Regions from separate parts of the Homo sapiens genome. Here region 1 is linked to region 2. The links come from fine-mapping of genetic effects on gene expression. A gene starts in region 2. The other region holds a variant in brackets. All regions are shown on one strand. Distances are from middle to middle.

What was found.
Region 1: its variant is fine-mapped to the expression of C8orf58 in blood mononuclear cells (TOPMed, PIP 0.98).

What each region holds. Positions count from the first base shown.
Region 1 is chr8:22,629,693-22,638,009 of GRCh38, forward strand. BIN3 (bridging integrator 3) reads right to left here. Exons shown (of 9, transcript NM_018688.6): 3 at 7,230-7,270; 4 at 6,833-6,894; 5 at 750-886; 6 at 272-312. Among named protein-coding and RNA genes, the nearest start is that of BIN3-IT1, 8.4 kb to the right of the region's middle. RefSeq lists enhancers at 1,441-1,975, 1,976-2,510. The variant A/G (reference allele first, on the strand shown) is at 4,675.
Region 2 is chr8:22,596,104-22,604,420 of GRCh38, forward strand. It overlaps C8orf58 (chromosome 8 open reading frame 58), which reads left to right and starts at 3,496. Exons shown (of 7, transcript NM_001013842.3): 1 at 3,496-3,657; 2 at 4,779-5,254; 3 at 5,609-5,749; 4 at 5,869-5,977; 5 at 6,097-6,209; 6 at 6,434-6,540; 7 at 7,092-8,039. The coding sequence starts at 3,618. The coding sequence ends at 7,203. It overlaps LOC107986876 (a long non-coding RNA gene), which reads right to left. Exons shown (of 1, transcript NR_160769.1): 1 at 7,030-8,317. It also overlaps a transcript of PDLIM2 not described here. RefSeq lists enhancers at 999-1,746, 1,747-2,494, 5,183-6,060 and silencers at 2,881-2,940, 3,306-3,405, 3,436-3,895.

The DNA of each region.
Region 1 (8,317 bases), 34 kb after region 2:
ACCACCAGAACAGCGGCGGTTGCTGGGTGGGGTGGGAAGGGGGTGGTGGCAGGGGTACCCTGAGCTCGCCTGGGCCATGTGGGTACTCTGGAGCCCCCAGGAGCATGGACGCTTAGGCCACAGGTCACAGAGCTGACGTCCCCACTGAGTTTCCCGTCAGGCCCCATGGGAATCTGGGGACACGCAGCTAGAAATCCTCTTCAGTCCCCAAGTGGCTGCTGACCTGCCTCTCCCATAAGTGCCCCGAGGCCCCCAGGTGACATTTACTCACTTTTTTAAGGGCTCGATCACAGTCTTCTGGATCTGGTTCACCTGTCAAAGAAAAACCCAAAGACATTAAAACTGGTGGGGAGGGGAGGGCGACACGCAAGGCAGGGCCCCTAACTACCAAAGGGCTAGGAAGTCTAAAGGGCCACAGGGTGCTGTCCTTGTCCTGGGCCTGGCTTTGCTCAGGGTGGAGGCCGGGTGGCTGGCCACAGAAGCCTCAGGGGCTGGGGTGAACAGGACTGCCGCCGGCAACCCTCACAGTAAGTAACATGAGCTCGTGGAGCCTCAGGAGGCAGGTAGAGCCAAGGCAGAACAGTCTGGAAAGAGCCCTGTGGGCTTGCAGCACCTTGCAGCACACGAGGCCAGAGGGCTTAGAGCCCTGAGAGCAGAGGGAGCCCACTCGGGCCTCCCCGCACAGTCCACCCAGAGGCCCAGACCGGGCAGAAGTCATGCTTGCCCACCCCACACCAAGACCTAGTCACCTTTTCCTGATTGAAGGCATCCATCCGCTTCATGGCCGTGTCCAGGGCCGTCACCATGTTCAGAAGGTCCTGGTCTTGCTCACAGAGGGGATTGGAGAGTAAGTCCAAGGATATCTTCACGGCAGATTTTGACATGGCTGTGGGAAGCCAAAGCTCGGTGAACCTTCTATGAAGGGGCAGGTTTCACGGCCTTCTCTCCAGGACCCCGTCCTCCTATGCCAGGGGCCTGCACCCTGAAGACCTCTTCCCACAGCCACGGCCGTCAAGAACGGCGAAGTACCACACAACCACAAGCTGCTGATCCCCATGGTTTAATGTTCATTCCTGACCCTAACACTGCTCCAGACAATTCTTTTGAGCCGCTTTACCTGTTCTCCAAACCCTGGGTTAGAAAAGGACCATCTGGGTGGGAGGCTATAAAATATGTTTCTGGCTCCAAAGATTCTAATTCAGTAAACCCGGTACCCAAGAATATGCATTTAAAACCGCTCTCCAAGTGGTTTGGACGTGATGCTTGGTTTGGGACTCCTGGATGGACAAGAATAACAGTACTCCAGTTTACACATGCTTTTACTACAAAAGGCCCAACAGTAAATATTTCAGGCTTCGTGGGCCATACAATTTCTGTTGCAACTTCTCAACTCTGCCTTGTGCTGTGAAAACTGCCAGCGACAACACATAAAAAAAGGGATGTGGCTGTTTCAATAAAACTTTATTGACAAAACTAGGTCAGATTAGGCCAGCAGCTGCACCCTGCCAACCCCTGGTTTCCTCAATATCCAGTAGGAAGAGATACGCTGGAAAATGTGTTTTCCCCCAAGACTCGCCCAGACACACACTGCAGCTGGTACAGGCGGGACTGGGACAGCAGGGCCCTCCTCCCGGGTCTGTTCCTGCTCCCCCAGAATTTTGTTTGTAAATAATGGAAACCTGGGGACTTGTACGGGACAAAGAGCTCCAAAGCTGCCAGCAGGTCCCCATCTTAGGGTTCTGCCAAGGTTCCCATGCACTCTCATTTAGGGCTCAAACAACCCAGGGGATGTCTAGCGGAAATGTAGTTTGGTTCCATTTTAGCGAGGAGGCAGATTAGGCGCAAAAGGGTTTGTAATGCCTCCAAGGTCAAACGGCTGAGTGCGCCAGCCGGGCCCTGACCCTTGACCCTGGGCAGCTGCTTCCCTGTTCACTGCTCTCCTTCTGATCTGGCCTAGAGGAAGCCAGTGGACAGGTCCATCAGGCTCTGTCCATCAGGCATCCACTGACGTTTTTCAAGGCACCCTGGTACCGGATCCCCATGAATGTGCCGCCCACCCCTCTGTGCTCCTCCCTCCTGTGTTGACATTCCCTGCTGGGCAGATGGGAAGCCTGGGAGTCACAGGCGGCTCAGAGGCGGGCTGGAGACCTGCTGGCAGCTTTGGAGCTCTTGGTCCTGAACATGTTTTCAGGCCTCCATTATTTCTAGATTCTAGAAACAAAATTCTGGAGGGGCAGGAAGCGGCCCTGGAGAAGGGTCATGCTGGCCTGATGCCGTCTGTACCAGTGTCAGAGTGCATCTGGGGCAGGTCTCAGGAGAGAAGACACATTGTGAATGCATTTCTTACCATATGCATGTTACTGAATTTAAGATGCTCTTCATTATAAGTCACTTATTGTATGAACTACTAAGGGAGAAAAAATTGTTGTCAATCAAACCAGGCTACACTTTCAGTACTTTGATTTCAGAGACATTAACTGTGGAAAAAGTGTCTTAGGACCCATGACATAAGGTCTGCCTCCCAGTTAATCACAGATGTGGCCTTGCCTAGCACTCCATGGCATGAACCTGAACCCTGACCCTGCGCTCCCCGGGGAAGGGTCTGCCTCCGCCAGGCCCCTTCACCAGTCAGCAAAGCAGCGCTGAGCGGACTAGCCAGCCCGGAGCACCCTCCTGGGGTTTTTCTGGAATCTGGGAGAGTGCTACAGTCAACCAGCAAAAGGGCAAACTGTGGGAGAAGGCTGGAAATGTAAACTTTCCAGAAATGTTGAAGCAACGGAGGGAAAAACACCTCTTAAATTCTGTGGAGTGACTCTGTAGATTTAGGAACAAACGTTACGTATAACTTGATTTGATTATGAAATGATCACATACAGCATAATAAAAAGATAATAAAATTCTGGATAAAGCTGGAAATGTTTCTGAAAAACATCTTCTGCTATTTCTTAAAAAAATATCTGAGGAAAACAACCCAAAAAGCCAGAGGAGCGAGGACACGGTCTTTCCACTTTCCTTTTTTTTTTTTTTTTCAGACGGAGTTTCGCTCTTGTCACCCAGGCTGGATGGAGTGCAATGGCATCATCTCGGCTCACTGCATCCTCCGCCTCCTGGCTTCAAGTGATTCTCCTGCCTCAGCCTCTCAAGTAGCTGGGATTACAGGTGCCTGCCATCACACCCACCTAATTTTTGTATTTTTAGTAGAGACGGGGTTTCACCATGTTGGCCAGGCTGGTCTCGAACTCCTGACCTCAGGTGATCTACCTGCCTTTGCCTGCCAAAGTGCTGGGATTACAGGTGTGAGCCACTGCGCCCAGCCCAGCTGCATTTTCCCCTTTCTTTCCTAAAGCTCTTGCATTGTCAGGAAGTCAAGGAACTGAGTGGGCTCAGTGGCCGGCCCTGGGCAGAACTGGGTCTGGAATCCCCGCCCAGTGATGCCCCCGCTTCATGTGAGCAGAGCAGAGCTGGGGTAGATGACACCAAGAACACCATGGTCTTGGCTGGGCGTAGTGGCTCATGCCTGTAATCCCTGTGCTTTGGGAAGCTGAAGCAGGAGGATCCCTTGAGCCCAGGAGTTCGAGACCAGCCTGGATGACACAGTGTGACTCTGTTCCCCCTCAACAAAAATAAACAGCAGGTCTCCATGCCCCTCTGGACCTGTGGTCCCTGCCCCAGCCCATACCCCTCATTGTTCCCTGCAGGGACTGGGAGAGGGGCACAGTCAGCCTGGCCCACACCAGGAGGCTGGTGATCTTTGAACCTTAGAGAAAGTGAGGGTCTTGGACCCCACCCGGGTCTCTGGAGTCCTGATGCGGCCTCTGGAATGTAAGATTCAAAGATTCACCAGAGCACTCTGAAAGTAGTATGAGTTTCTGAAAGAAAGGTCATCTTTTTTAGAATAACTGGGGATTTTCCACCTTGCTGGGGGAGCGCAGGAGATTCCACGCTCAGGAAAAGCATCCCTCCATTCCCCTCAACTGTCCAGATCAGTGGAGCTCACAGTGTGGGCCTCAGCATCACCTGGGAACTCCAGGGACACACATTTTCAGGTCTCGCCCAGCTCATGAGTTAGTTGGAGGCTGGAGGTGGGGCCCAGCGGCCCACGGCACAGCAAGCCCGCCTACAACACTGATGCCCCGTACATGAGACTGATGTGGCTGTCAGGCTCGCCTTGGCCCCATGACCACCACCACCGCTCTTCAGAGGCACTGTCTCTGCCCACATCCATTCCTGACTGAGGACAGTAGTGTTAGGCTTCTGCAGTTACCCATTCAACTCTGGTTTCTCTGCTGGGAAACTAAGCTTTCCACAGCCATGGACGGTGCGTCACGGACCCCTGATGCCCTCCTTGGTTCCGTAGCAAGCCACTGTGAACACAGCACACCCTGGCTTCGTTTATGCTCTGACAATGCAGCTGTCTGCAGAAGCAGGAAGGAAAGGAAGCAATGGCTCACAGCAGCTCCCGAACTGGAAAGGCAGTGGGGACCGATCAAGAAAAATGCGACCCAAGTAACTCAGACCTGAAATAACTACAAAACAAACAACTGCAGACAAACTCCCAAATCCAGTCCTTGGCTTGTGACACACATAGTTTGGCAACGCTAGAGGCCAGGAGCAAGGTGCATGTTCAGACCAGCCCACGGCCCAGGAATTAGCACTGGCATGAAAATTCATGGC[A/G]CAGACCAAGACGGCCACAGTCCCTGCACAGGCAGTCAGCGCTCACCCGGGCATGGTGGTGGTGACGGCGGCTCCCAGGGAAGGAACGCTTTCCTTTTGTGATCAGTGCTTTGTAGGAAAGGTGTGTTTACACATCAGTAACTGGCTGAGGCTTAGGAGCTGGCATAAAATGGGAACAAATTCAAATCACTGCCTCTATTGGGACATTTCAAGGGTTTTCCTCGTAACTGCAGTACCAAGTAGGAGCACACTGGTCCTCAAGTCCCACCCGTAGGTGCCCACTGCCCTGTGGCCCTTTGAATGGTGTCAGGAGACAGTGAGGCCGCCCCATTTGCACTAGGCTCACAGACAGCCAAGCAAAGAGTGGATGGGCAACGGTTCCGGAGTGGGGGCTGTTTCGGTCACCTTCTAGTTTGGTGGCGGGCACGGGGGTGGGCAAAGGAATGAGTGGGGCATGGGGAGGCTTCGCTGTGGAGACAAGGCCCTGGACTTGGAGAAGAGGAGCTGAACTCTTCCTCCTTTATCAAATGGACATGCCCATTTATAAAATGGGTGTGTCATGTGCCCTGCCAATCTCAAGGTCAGAAAAGCTCAGGGAGGTGAAATTTCTTCACAGCCATAACATGGCATTATTCAGCAGCTGGAGTGGCCGAGGGGACTGAAGATGGCTTCTCCACCCTCCTGCTGCCTCTCCTGCATCTCTGGTCAGCGTGCACCACCTTAGGGCCTCCGCGCTTGCTGTCCACTGTGTTTCAGGCCCTCTTCCCTTGGCTCTACCTGTGTGGGTTATTCATTCCTTCAGGACTCTGCCCAGGGATCACGTCCCCACGAAGGCCTCCCTTGACCCTGTCACTCTCCACCTCCTTATTTTTATTGACCTTGCACGCCACGACGTGTCATTATATACCGATCCGCTTGTGGACCTCTTGCAGGTCTTCCTCCTAGAACGTAAGCTCCCATCTTGTCTTGCTGTTGAGTCTCTAGTGCTGAGAGTGCCTGGTGCACGTGGGTTCTCGGTCAGCATCTGCTGAGTGAGAGGAAGTGGGCAGTCCTGGCCATACCCAAGTCTCTTTCAGGTCCTCGTCCCAGTGTGGTATATAGACACGGCTTCCCCACTGGACCCAGGGAAGGAGCTGCAGGAGTCCACCCAGTCAGGGAGGCTTGCTGCCGACCATGACGACGGTGATGACAGGAGCGGACACCCCGAGAGCTGACCCGTGCCAGGCCCTGTTCTCAGTGCTTTACGTTGCTCATCCAACTTCATCTTCAGCAACAGCCTGTGCCACTCGGATTGGCGTTACCTGTGCTTCTCGGGTGACGGAACTGAGGTAGAGCTAAGTCAGCTGTCCAGAGCTGCGCAGGGAGTGCTGAAGCTATTGATCAACCTTTGGTCAAGTGCTTGCTGCTCCGGGGTGGGAAAGTCAAGGCCTTGGAGAAAGAACCTCAAGGAATGGTCTCCATCTCTCCCGGCTGCTCGTCGCCTCCTTCCTGGGACATGGCCTGCAGCAAGGGCTCTGGATGCTCCCTTATTCCCGACCTGCTTGTGTCTCTAGGCTCCCAGGCCTGGTTCCTCCTTGTTTCAAACAAGAGCTCTCCAGCCAAGAAACCTCCCCAAGGGCCCTGGCTGTTTCCCAGCACCTGCTGGCCCCCACTTCCCAAGGACCTCCCGGTGCCCTTTGTCATCATAGAATTATCTGGGGTATTTCTGGCCTTACACTTTAACCCAACCTCCTGTTTAAACACATGACAGCTTCCATTCTTGTTGCCACTGGAGCGCCTGTCCCAGCAGGCCACGGAGTCTCGTTTCTGCGGGAAGGAATGTGCTTCCCTTTCCCTCTGGACAGCCTGAGCCGGTGGCCAGGATTCTGAGGCAATGGAGGCATCTGCTACCAGAAGCTTCCACCAGCTGCTGTACTGTCCTGACTGGAGTCCCAGGAGAGCCTTGCCCCAGCACCCACATCCAGAGTGGGGCAGTGCGAGCTCTGTGCAAAGTGGGATGTGACTGGTGAGGAGTGACTGCCCTGAGGCTGCTTCTCAGGACACTGGGTACACGTCCTCTGAGCGCAGCAACTTCAGAGCCCTTGGGGGGCTGAGAGAGGAGGGTGCCCACCTCTGCCCCACCTGCTCAAGCGAGTGGTGCGGGTGGAAAGTCACCTACCCAGGTCTGCGTCGGTGCTCTTCTTCATGTCTTTCTGCAGCCTCCGGGTCTGCTCTTCCAGCCTGCAAGGCAGGGGACGGGCTGCTTGGGGTCCCCTTCCTTCCCCCTACCTGAGCGAAGCCCAGGTGCTCTGGAGGGCCTGCCAAGGAGGAGGAGAAAGGGATCTTCTCCACGGGGACTTTTCCCGCTGACTGAAGTGCCACTACACCCAAAGGCTATGAGTGAATGACTCTCACATGGCCATTGCCAGGGAACAGTTCCAGCAGCCTGGTGACCTGAGCTGCCCTCAGCTTCCAGGGTGCTCACGGGGCAGGGCACGGGGCAGACAGGTGAGACCTGGCAGGGGGCCCTTGTCCCTCCCTGCCTCCCACCTCATCTTTCTGGGGTTGACACTCACTGCTGAAGTTTTCCATACTCCCTTTCAAAGTCTCTCTCCACCTGAAACGAGAGAGATAACTCAATTATCGGAGAAATGACAACACGGTGGAAAAAACCTCCCAGCCTCCTGAAACTCTCTCCACACCCTGCCCCAGTCCGCAGAAAACAACATGGTCCAGTTCACACAAGCACCGACAGATCGCTCCTGACACGGTATTTCTGAGATCCCAAGTTAATTAAGTGTTTGAATTACGGAGGAAGGCTCCCCTCCCAGAGGGTCCAGCCAGGCAGGTGCCAGCGGACTGTGGCTCTGCTCTTCCCAGCTGGGAGCAAGGCACTCGCTGCATGCCCTCCTCACCCCAGGCTGGAGGCAGTCAGGGTGCTCAGAACGTGACTGGACCCCATCCAGGAAGGCAGCAGAGTGCAGAGGAGAGGGCGGGTCTGGAATTGGGGGTCTGTCTCTGCCTTTTCCTAGTTTCCAGGTCCATGCAGGGCACCTCCCCTCCTACGCGGCCCTCCACTCAGGGCCACCTGCCCCTGCTGGGCTCAGGGTGGGTCAGGAACAATCGTGCACCTGTGCTTTGTGATTGGGATGCATCAAACACAGACACTGTGACTACTGACTCAGGTCAGGCTCTCTCCATTCCCGACCGGGTATCAACTCTCTTGAGAGCCAGCAACACTGAAACCAAATGGGTGAGTCCTGAACCCGGGGCTGCACTTGTTGCGGAAGATGAAGTTAAGAAGTCTAGTACTTTCTTCTGGTGCCTTGACTTCACTATCTGTAAAACGGAGCCTCATGATTGGTCTCTTATGGGCATGCAATGGGAAGTAAATGACATCGAGAGGCAAAGGAGACTAAGCTAGAGGCCTGCCCTCCCTGGCCAGAGCTGCAGCCGTCAGGTGCCAGCTTCGGGCTTCGTGCTCTGAGAAGTCAAAACCGCTAACTCACATTCACAGAGCCCTCACTGTGTGCTTTACAAGAATGCAGTTCTCTACACTCATCTCCAAGGCAGGTCACCGGGAACCAGGTTACGTACCCTGGCCAAGGTCACCCCATTGGTGAGGGGTAGAGTTGAGCACAGTGGGAATGGAACCCAGGCAGCC
Region 2 (8,317 bases):
CACTTGGAAGGTTTTAAGCAGAGAAGTGACAGGTTGGAAAAGATGGTTTGGATTATTGATATGGACAGATTCCCACCTGTATGTAGCACGCCATGCTGGGCCAGCAGTGTCATAGGAGTGGAGGGGGATAAGTGGGGACTGGGGACATGTGAAATGATGGGCATTCCAGTGAGGCATCGAATGCCTTCTGAGGGCTTTGTAGGTTCCAGCTCAAATCCCCCTCTGGCTCTTGTTCTTTGGTGTGGCAGCCATCTCTCCTCCCAGGGGTCCTGAGGGTTTCAGCACCAGGGTTCTCTGCAGCCACACAATCAGCCCGGCTCGGGAGCAAACTCCCCTGGAAGAACGGAGTTATGAGTTGGTCAGCAGAGGAGGCTGGGGACAGGCAGTTTTTGGTCTTTTACCTCTGATCTTGTCCCCAACCTAAGCCAGCTAGCTGCGTGCTCCCACTCCCTCTGCCGCACGCCGCCCGTCTATGTTCCCGGACTTTGTCCAGTGCAGTGCCCTCTTCCCTTCCTGCACTGAGGAGATTAACTGAAGTGACAGATTAGAGTTAGAAGTGGCCCAAAGGAGCATCTGGTACAACCCCCTTTGGTTAGAGAAGGGAAAGTGACTTTTCCAAAGCTGCACAGCTAGACAGTCATAATGGCTAAGCTCTGGGGGTGCTTTTGATGTGCTAGGGATACTTCCAATGCTTTAACTCACTTAATCCTCACAACCCGAGATAGGTACTGTTACCATCCTCTCTGCAGACGAGGAAACCGAGGACCAGGAGGTTCAGTAAATGGTCCAAGTACTCCTAGCTAGTAAGGAATGGATCTACAGCCTGCCTCCCAGGTTTCTGGCTTGTGGGGGGCAGAGTTTGTCCCTCTGTCATCAGAGGCAGCCTTCCAGGCACAGCTCTGGTCACCTCTGGTCACAACTGGAGGTCACCACAGCCCTCCCCAGCGCTCTGTAGGCTCTCAGCTTTGTGCTTCCTCCCACGGGTACTAGCTCCAGCTGAGCTTGCAGGAAACCCACTTCCTGAAGCCAGGACTTCCCCATGGGAAGTGCAGGGGCCACTGGGCAGCCTGAGGGCTGACCCTGCTCAGGACACTGTCTGTCTCAGGAACTCATGGCAGTGGTTTACCTTGTCAGGAGTGCATGGACGGGCTGCCCCTCCCATTCCTTCAAGCATCACTCAGAGAGCCCTGGCCTGGCTCTAGGCTTGGGACTGCGGCTGCCACAGGAAGGGGGCATCCCCCTACTTTGGGTGTTGGGTCAGATCCTGCCCCCGTGCCCGCCAGGGCTCAGGTTCCTCTGAGCTGGTCCTGGGCCAGGACGCATCTGCATGGCGGTGGTGGGGAGGAGGGGTGCGCCATGGCCTGGAGGGGAGTGTGTGTTGGGGTGTGTGTGTGGAGGTTCTTTTGAGTCACACACAAAGCATTGTGCTGAGACACTGCATTCCTGCTGGCTGGGCTTCCTGTTTCCAGATGCATTCCTGTCCCAGAGTCACCACAGAGACTGTTTGGAATCCCGCCCCACATTCTCCAAATTCAGGGCGCGATCTGGCAAAGGCTCCCTCCCCCACCCTCTTACTTTGGAGGGAGTCTGGGCTCCCTCCTACCCAGGGAGGGCTGGCAGGGCTCTGGCACGGCCGGGGTGTGATTCCACACATCTTCTTGGTCTTGCATAAGGCAGTTCCTGGAGACCCAGCACTCTGGTTCTCTCTCTGCCTGTGAGAAGCGGAATGGGTACTGTCTAGGAGGACTGGGCAGGGTGGGGGCAACCCAGAGGACCCATGGCTAGCAGGGAAGGGCCTGGGCTTGAATGTGACTCTGTTGAGACATGGCCAGCAATTCTGGCACTTGGCTGTCATTCGGCTGGCCTGCGCAGAGATTGGCTGTGGGCCTCAGTTTCCCCATTTTATAAAGTTTTAAAATCTGATAGTTTGTGGCTCTCTGATAAAGGCTCCTGCAGTGGGTGTTTGGGGACTGGTTCCAGAAAGGAGCAAAGGGAAGGGGATGCACAGACTGTCTTACCCCTCCCGGTAAACAGCCACTTCCTTCCAGTGGCTCTGGCTCCAGCCTCTCCCCTCCCCTAGAGGTCCAGGTGCTAGTCTGCACGTCCTCCAGCTCCCTTATCTGCCTCCGGGGGATTTGGGTCCTGCTGGGATTTTTCCAGCCCTGCCCCCTCCCTCTGGAGGAGGTGCCTTCTTTAGAGGACACCAGCCCCAGTCTGGTCACCAGGCTCTCTCTCATCTTCAGTAGCTTCTTGGGCTCCTTTTAGGTTGGGGACTGAGGGGTGGAATCCCACGGGCCAAAGGCAGGGTGAGGTGGGAACAGGGGGACATTTACACTTTGGCCCAGTCTCCAGGCGGCTCCCCGCTGGCTCGCATCTTTCCAGACCTTGAGACCTACCCAGTCCCCAGCTTTAGGGAGCCCGGGATGAGAAAGAGGCAGGGGACCGGGAGGGGGTTCAGATCTAGCTGAGGACACACGCGCGTTCTGCAGTTGTAAAAGATTTCCCGGTGGGCAGGATCGTTTCCCCTCCCATCGCCCAGGTTTCCGAGCGGCCAAGAGACTGGCCCCCAAGCCACACTGCTAGGGAGCGCCGGGTGCCCGCGTCCTGGTCAGCGCTCTTCCCACCGCCAGCACGTGGGGCTCCCATTTCCTTCCTGGCTCTTGTCCGGTCCTCCAGCCAGCCCCGGCTCTAAGTCCGCGGCAGGAAGACGGACGCTGCGTGTGAACCCGCGGGGCCGGGCGGACCGGCGCCCCGAGCCAGACGGCGTCCCCAGGCGGGGGCCGGGTCCTCGCAGAACAGCTGATCGGGACCCTTATTTTGGCCACAGCCACAGTTGGGGGCGCCACCCAGTCCGTGCCTTCGACCTCGTTCTTGGCGACCCGGCCACCTGCGCCCCCCACCTGGCACCCTTGCCTTCCCTCCTCTCGCCCCTCCCCTCCCTCCTCTCGCCCCTCCCCTCTCCTCTCCCCTCCCCTCCCTCTCCTCTCCCCTCCCCTCCCTCTCCTCTCCCCTTTCCCTCTCCCCTCTCCTCTCCTCCCCTCTCCCCTCTCCTTTCCTCCCCTCTCCCCTCTCCCCTCCCTCTCCTCTGCCCACCCTCTCCTCGCCCCTCCCCTCTCCCCTCCCTCTCCCCTCCCCACCCTCTCCTCTCCCCTCCCCTCGCCCTCCTCTTCCTCGCCCCTCCCCTCCCTCTCCTCGCCCCTCCCCTCCCTCTCCTTTCCCCTCCCTCGCCTCGTTCCTCTCATCCCTCGTCTTGCCCCGCCCCTTTCTCCTCGCCCCCTTCTCCTCGCCCCTCCCCCTTCCCCTCGCCCCTCCCCTCCTCTCGCCGCTCCCCTACCTTGCCTCGCCCCTCCCCTCCCTCGTCTCGCCCCTCCCCTCTCTCCTCGCCCCTCCCTTCCTCGTCTCGCTCTTCCTCTCTCCTCCCCCTAGGCCACGCCCCCCACCGCCCCGCCCCCCGCCCCCCCAGCCCCGCTCCCCGCCCCCCCAGCCCCGCTGGGAGTGTCTGGGGGCCGCGCCCAGCTGGGTCGGGACGCGCTCCCTGAGCTGCCCGAGCTCCGCGGGGACTCGGGCCGGGATCCTCGGGCGGCTGCATTGGCCGGGGCCGGGGCCGGGAGCGGGCCATGATGGGCCGGCGGCGCGCCTTCGCCGTGGACGGCCGGGGTGAGTCACCCACCCCCAGGCTGGCCGGGCTCCCCCCTGCCCCGGAGCCGCTTCCCGCCCCCAAGCCGGGCACCCTCTCTCAGTTTCTTGCCCAGCCCCGCGCACCCCGCGGGCGGAGCCCGCGCCGCTGCGCCTCCCTCGCCGCCTCCCTGGAGGGGCGGTCATCAGGGGACGCCATGCAGGCTGGAACCCCTTTGGGCCCAGGCGTTAAACCAGCCACCGCCTCCGCCCCACTTCCTCCGGCTCCGCTTCCCTCGCCTTCCCGCTCCTTCTGAGGATGTGGGAATCCGCCCGCGCCCCAGCCCCCTCCGTGGCTGCGGACCCCTCTCCCACCCAGTGACCTCCTGGCCCACTTCCTTGCCCAGAGGGGCCTGGGTTGGCATTCGGCTCCCGCGTGCCCCGCAGCTCGTCCCCGCCCCCCTAGCCTGTTTCCCGTACCGTTCATTCCGCCAGGACGCCCCGTCGCCAGAGGGCCTGGCGGAGGTGACAGTGAGGGGGTGCTAATGCTGCCCCTTCGTCCCTTTCTTTCACTTCAGTTCTTTCATTTTAAACTTTTCATAAAATCTTCACTATTGCTCACTTACAACAAAAGCCCAAATCGGTTATAGCGGTGATTTTTATCACTCTCCCGGTGAGCTGCAGGAGAGACTTCACCTGGCATCCTGATGCCGCAGGGGCCCCCAGAGAGCAGGTTGGATCCCAGGCTTTCCTCTCTGTACCCTCTCCCCTCTCCCTGAAGCTGGATACAGTCCTACTCCCGCTTGGGGAGCAGCGGAAGAGCCTGTGGCTCCCTACTTCTGACTCGGGAGATCGTGGGCTGATCCTAGGTGGGAAGCGCAGGCGCAGGCCGTCTAAGGGATTGATGGATGTGGCCTGCCAGGGCTTTGCCTACCACACAGCTCAGAGCACGGGTTCCCTGTCGCTAACAACCGTTGCGAAGGGAATCCCATCCACACATCTCCCAGACAGCTGGGGCCATATCCGGGCTGCCCGTGGCTGTCCAGTGACCGCCCTTCCTCACTGCTCCGGGACACTTCTCCCTGGGGCAGTGCTGCCAGCCTTCAGGAATGCTGGGGGTGTTGGGGGTGGCCTGCCCAGCCTGACGCTGACTCTCCATGCAGATGGGGCTGGCGAGGGCCTGGCACGGGGCTGCATAGTGCCTGGAGTCACCAGCACCTACAGACGGATCCCCGACGCTGCCCACGGGTGCTCATCCTGGGAGAGAGGTGACAAGTTCAGAGGTGTCGGCAGGGAGGCACTCTTTCTCAAACTGGCCTCCCGGGACTCAGGAGTGGAGATGGCAGTTGGGGACAGCCCCCTGGCCGCCTTACCGGGCCTTTCTCAGGACTCCCTGGACTTTGAATCCTCAGGGAGTTCTGAGCCCCCCGCCCAGGTAGGCCGACTCCTGGCCAGCCAGAAGCTGGGGGAGGTGTTGGAGCGGTCCCGCCGGCTCCCAACAGCTCCCACCAGCTTGTCAGGACAACACCGCTCCCTGCGGCTGGCAAGCAAGCCTGAGCGTGAAGTGCCCCTTGGAGCAGGGCAACAGGAGTCCATGGAGGCAGACACAGACCTAGAGGCAGGCCTGGAAGAAGAGGCGGTGAGTGCTCACTCTCAGGCTGGGTTTAAGAGTGGGATGGACAGCCTAGCTCCTCTGGTTCTCCCTGGAGCTCTCTCTGGGTGGGGCACTCCCTGCCCCTAATTGATGGGTTGTGTCATAGGTTCTTTCTGCACCCCAGTTCCATTTGTGCACGGCCACCTCTGCAGAGGAGGTGGGCAGCTACGGGGGCCCTTCCTGGCACTATGCCCCGCTGGGCAGTGGGGAAGCCGGCTGCGTGTGTTCCTCCTCGGGGCCCACTCTGCTCCCATCTGCTGGCTGAGCCCAGCCTGGCTGCTTAGGGTAGGGCAGGAGCCCTACTGGCTGAAATCTCCCCTATCTCACAATGTCCCACAGGTGGGGGGCCTGGGGCCTGGAGCCTGGGCCTGCCTCCCCGGGCAGGGTCTTCGCTATCTGGAACACCTGTGCCTGGTGCTGGAGCAGATGGCAAGGCTCCAGCAGCTCTACCTGCAGCTGCGGATCCAGAGGCCCCCAGGGGTGAGTGAGATTCGAGTGGGGGAGGGAGAGGACAGATGGGACCCTGGGAACCATGGCTGCCCTCAGAGCAGCTTCAGCCCTCTAGCCAGGCCCTGATCACCTGTCTCTCCTGTGCATAGGATCCCGGCGAGGAGGAGTCGACCCGAGCCCCTTTACCGTCCCCGTTACACACCCCAGGCAATCGGGGGCAGGGGCCATGGGAGCTGCTAAGCCAGACAGAGCACACAGGTGAGGGGCCATCGTGTCTCCCTTTGTCCTGCCTGCCTGGGGTCCCACCAGCAGGTCCTCTGAGCCGAAGCTTGATGGGGTGTCTTCTGGCCCTGGCCAACCTGACTGTCTTTCTGAAGGAGCAAAGGCTGCTTCACCCCCAAAGGTGGAGGTGCCCAGTGCCAACCCTCCCAGGCTGCCAGAAACCCCAGTGGAGCCAACGTACCACTTGCCATCCTCCCAGGGACACAAGGTAGGGGACAGGTATATGTGGGGCAGGTGGTGGGCTGGGGTGGGGGGAGGGGAGGTGGGGGATGCATGGGCACCCTGGGGGCCAGCAACTCTGGGGAAATGACAGGATTGATTCCTGTTTGGAGCAGGCGACTTGTCCTGGCTGTGGCGACAGCTGTCTCTGGGAGCTTGGTCGGGGGTCTGAGTGTGGGGAGGGCTCTGGGTGACCCCTCATCCTCTGCTCAGCGGGATATCTCCCACTGGGACAAGGTCAAGGTCCTGCTCAACCGGATCTGCCGGAGAAGCCACCACCACCCTGAGCCCCCTGCCCCTCCTGATGGCTCTGACCCCAGGTGAGCCCCGTGCCCAGCCCAGGTTAGGGCACGGAGAGGAGACTGATAAGCCAGGATGCTGAGATTGTCATGCCAGTTGTCATTATTGTCCCCGCAAAACTTGAGAGGCAGTCTGGGAGGGGCTGCTAGAAGAAACAGTAGTTAAAACACCCCATTTACAGATAAGGAGGCAGGGTTCTGGGTGGGGTTGGGGGTAGTTGCTTTTCCAAAGCCGCACGGTGAGTCAGTGACAGCTAGGACCAGAATGTGGGAAATCTGCCTACCCTAGCTCAGCAACCCCTCACCCTCAATGCTGACATTTAGGCCACCTTCCAGGTTCGTGGGGAGAGCAAGGTGGAGCACAAAGGATTTCACAGTGGGTGAAGGCCATCATGCTTCGGGGCTTGTATTGAATCGTTCTCCAGGAGGAAGAAATACCAAGTCATTTAACAGCCCCGGGCTGCGCCCACACCCAGCTACCCACCAGCAGATAAACCACGTTCTCTCAACTCTAGGGCCATTGTTAGTTTTATTTCCCCCTTCTAGCCTAATGTCTTCTTTTCATTCCACAGGATCGAGTCCAGGGACCTCCCTGAAAGGCCTCAGTGCCGCCCCCACCGGAAGACCTTTATGCCATCATTAGTGGTTAAGAAGCAACGAGCAAAAAACCTTTCTGTAGGCTGAGACCTCTCGGTGCACCTGGTGACCCTGGGTGGAGGGGACTTGCTGTGAAGTCTTCCTCGCCCTCTGCCCTCTTGCTGCTTCTCCACATTGCCAGGAAAAGCTGCTGACGCCTGCCCTCCTCTCTTGAGTCGAGGGCTGAATCTTTCTCCTCTAAGCAGTCTGGTCAGGAACCTTGGTTTCTTGAGAGGCCCCCAAGATGCCGCAGCTCCAGGGCTCTTCCTCCTCACCAGAAATCCCTGGGCTTCCACAATGTGAACTCACTCATTGTCAGGTGTCCGTGGAGTGTTTTTGGCATGGTGACCTGTCTGGGCCCAGCATGTTGCAGATGTGTATTTATGCGCAATGGTATGCATATCTCTGTGTGACTGTCAGTGTTGCAAGCTGGCTGGATCCAACCATCTCTTCTGAAATAATGCATCCAAAGGGTTGATATTCTGGGGGAGGTCACTGCAGAAGGATGGAACTGACCTTTATTCCCCAGTGGGCAGTTACTGAGCTTTCCTCCTCAGAGCCATGCTGGCAGCCCTGGGACAGAGAACGGTGTGGCTTTGGCTGCCTCTGCATGGAATCTTGCCCCGGACTCCTGAAGACTGCACAAGGAATGAGGAAGATCAGGGACAACCTGGGAACTGAATAACTTTCAAAGCCAGTGCTCAGCTTCTCTGCTCCGTACTAGCGTTTACAGGTCTTAATTCAAACCAGATGCCTGTACTAGTTTTTAGACCCCAAGTCAACCTTTCTGAGCCACAGCTTCCCGCTGGGAATAATGATGCCTGCCCTATCTACCTCACAGACTTGTTATGAGGATAAAGTGAGATTAAACTGCCTCAAAGTGCTTTGTAAACCTCAGGTGAATAGGAAAGGGGAAAGTAAGGCTGGAGTGATGATGGGGAGGTCGGAGGATAAGGGGGGGCTGGGATTGCTAATGGGGACTAAAATGGCCAGTCTCCTGGCAAGATTTTGAGCAGGTCATTTCATTGAGGCCTCTTAGATTTCATATTTGAGAATTAGGGCACTGATTCCTGACTGGCTAGGCATGGTGGTCACTGGCTTGAGTCAGACCAGGAATGTCTCTTAGAAATGGTCACTGATAGGCATCCTTCTCCTCCAGTCA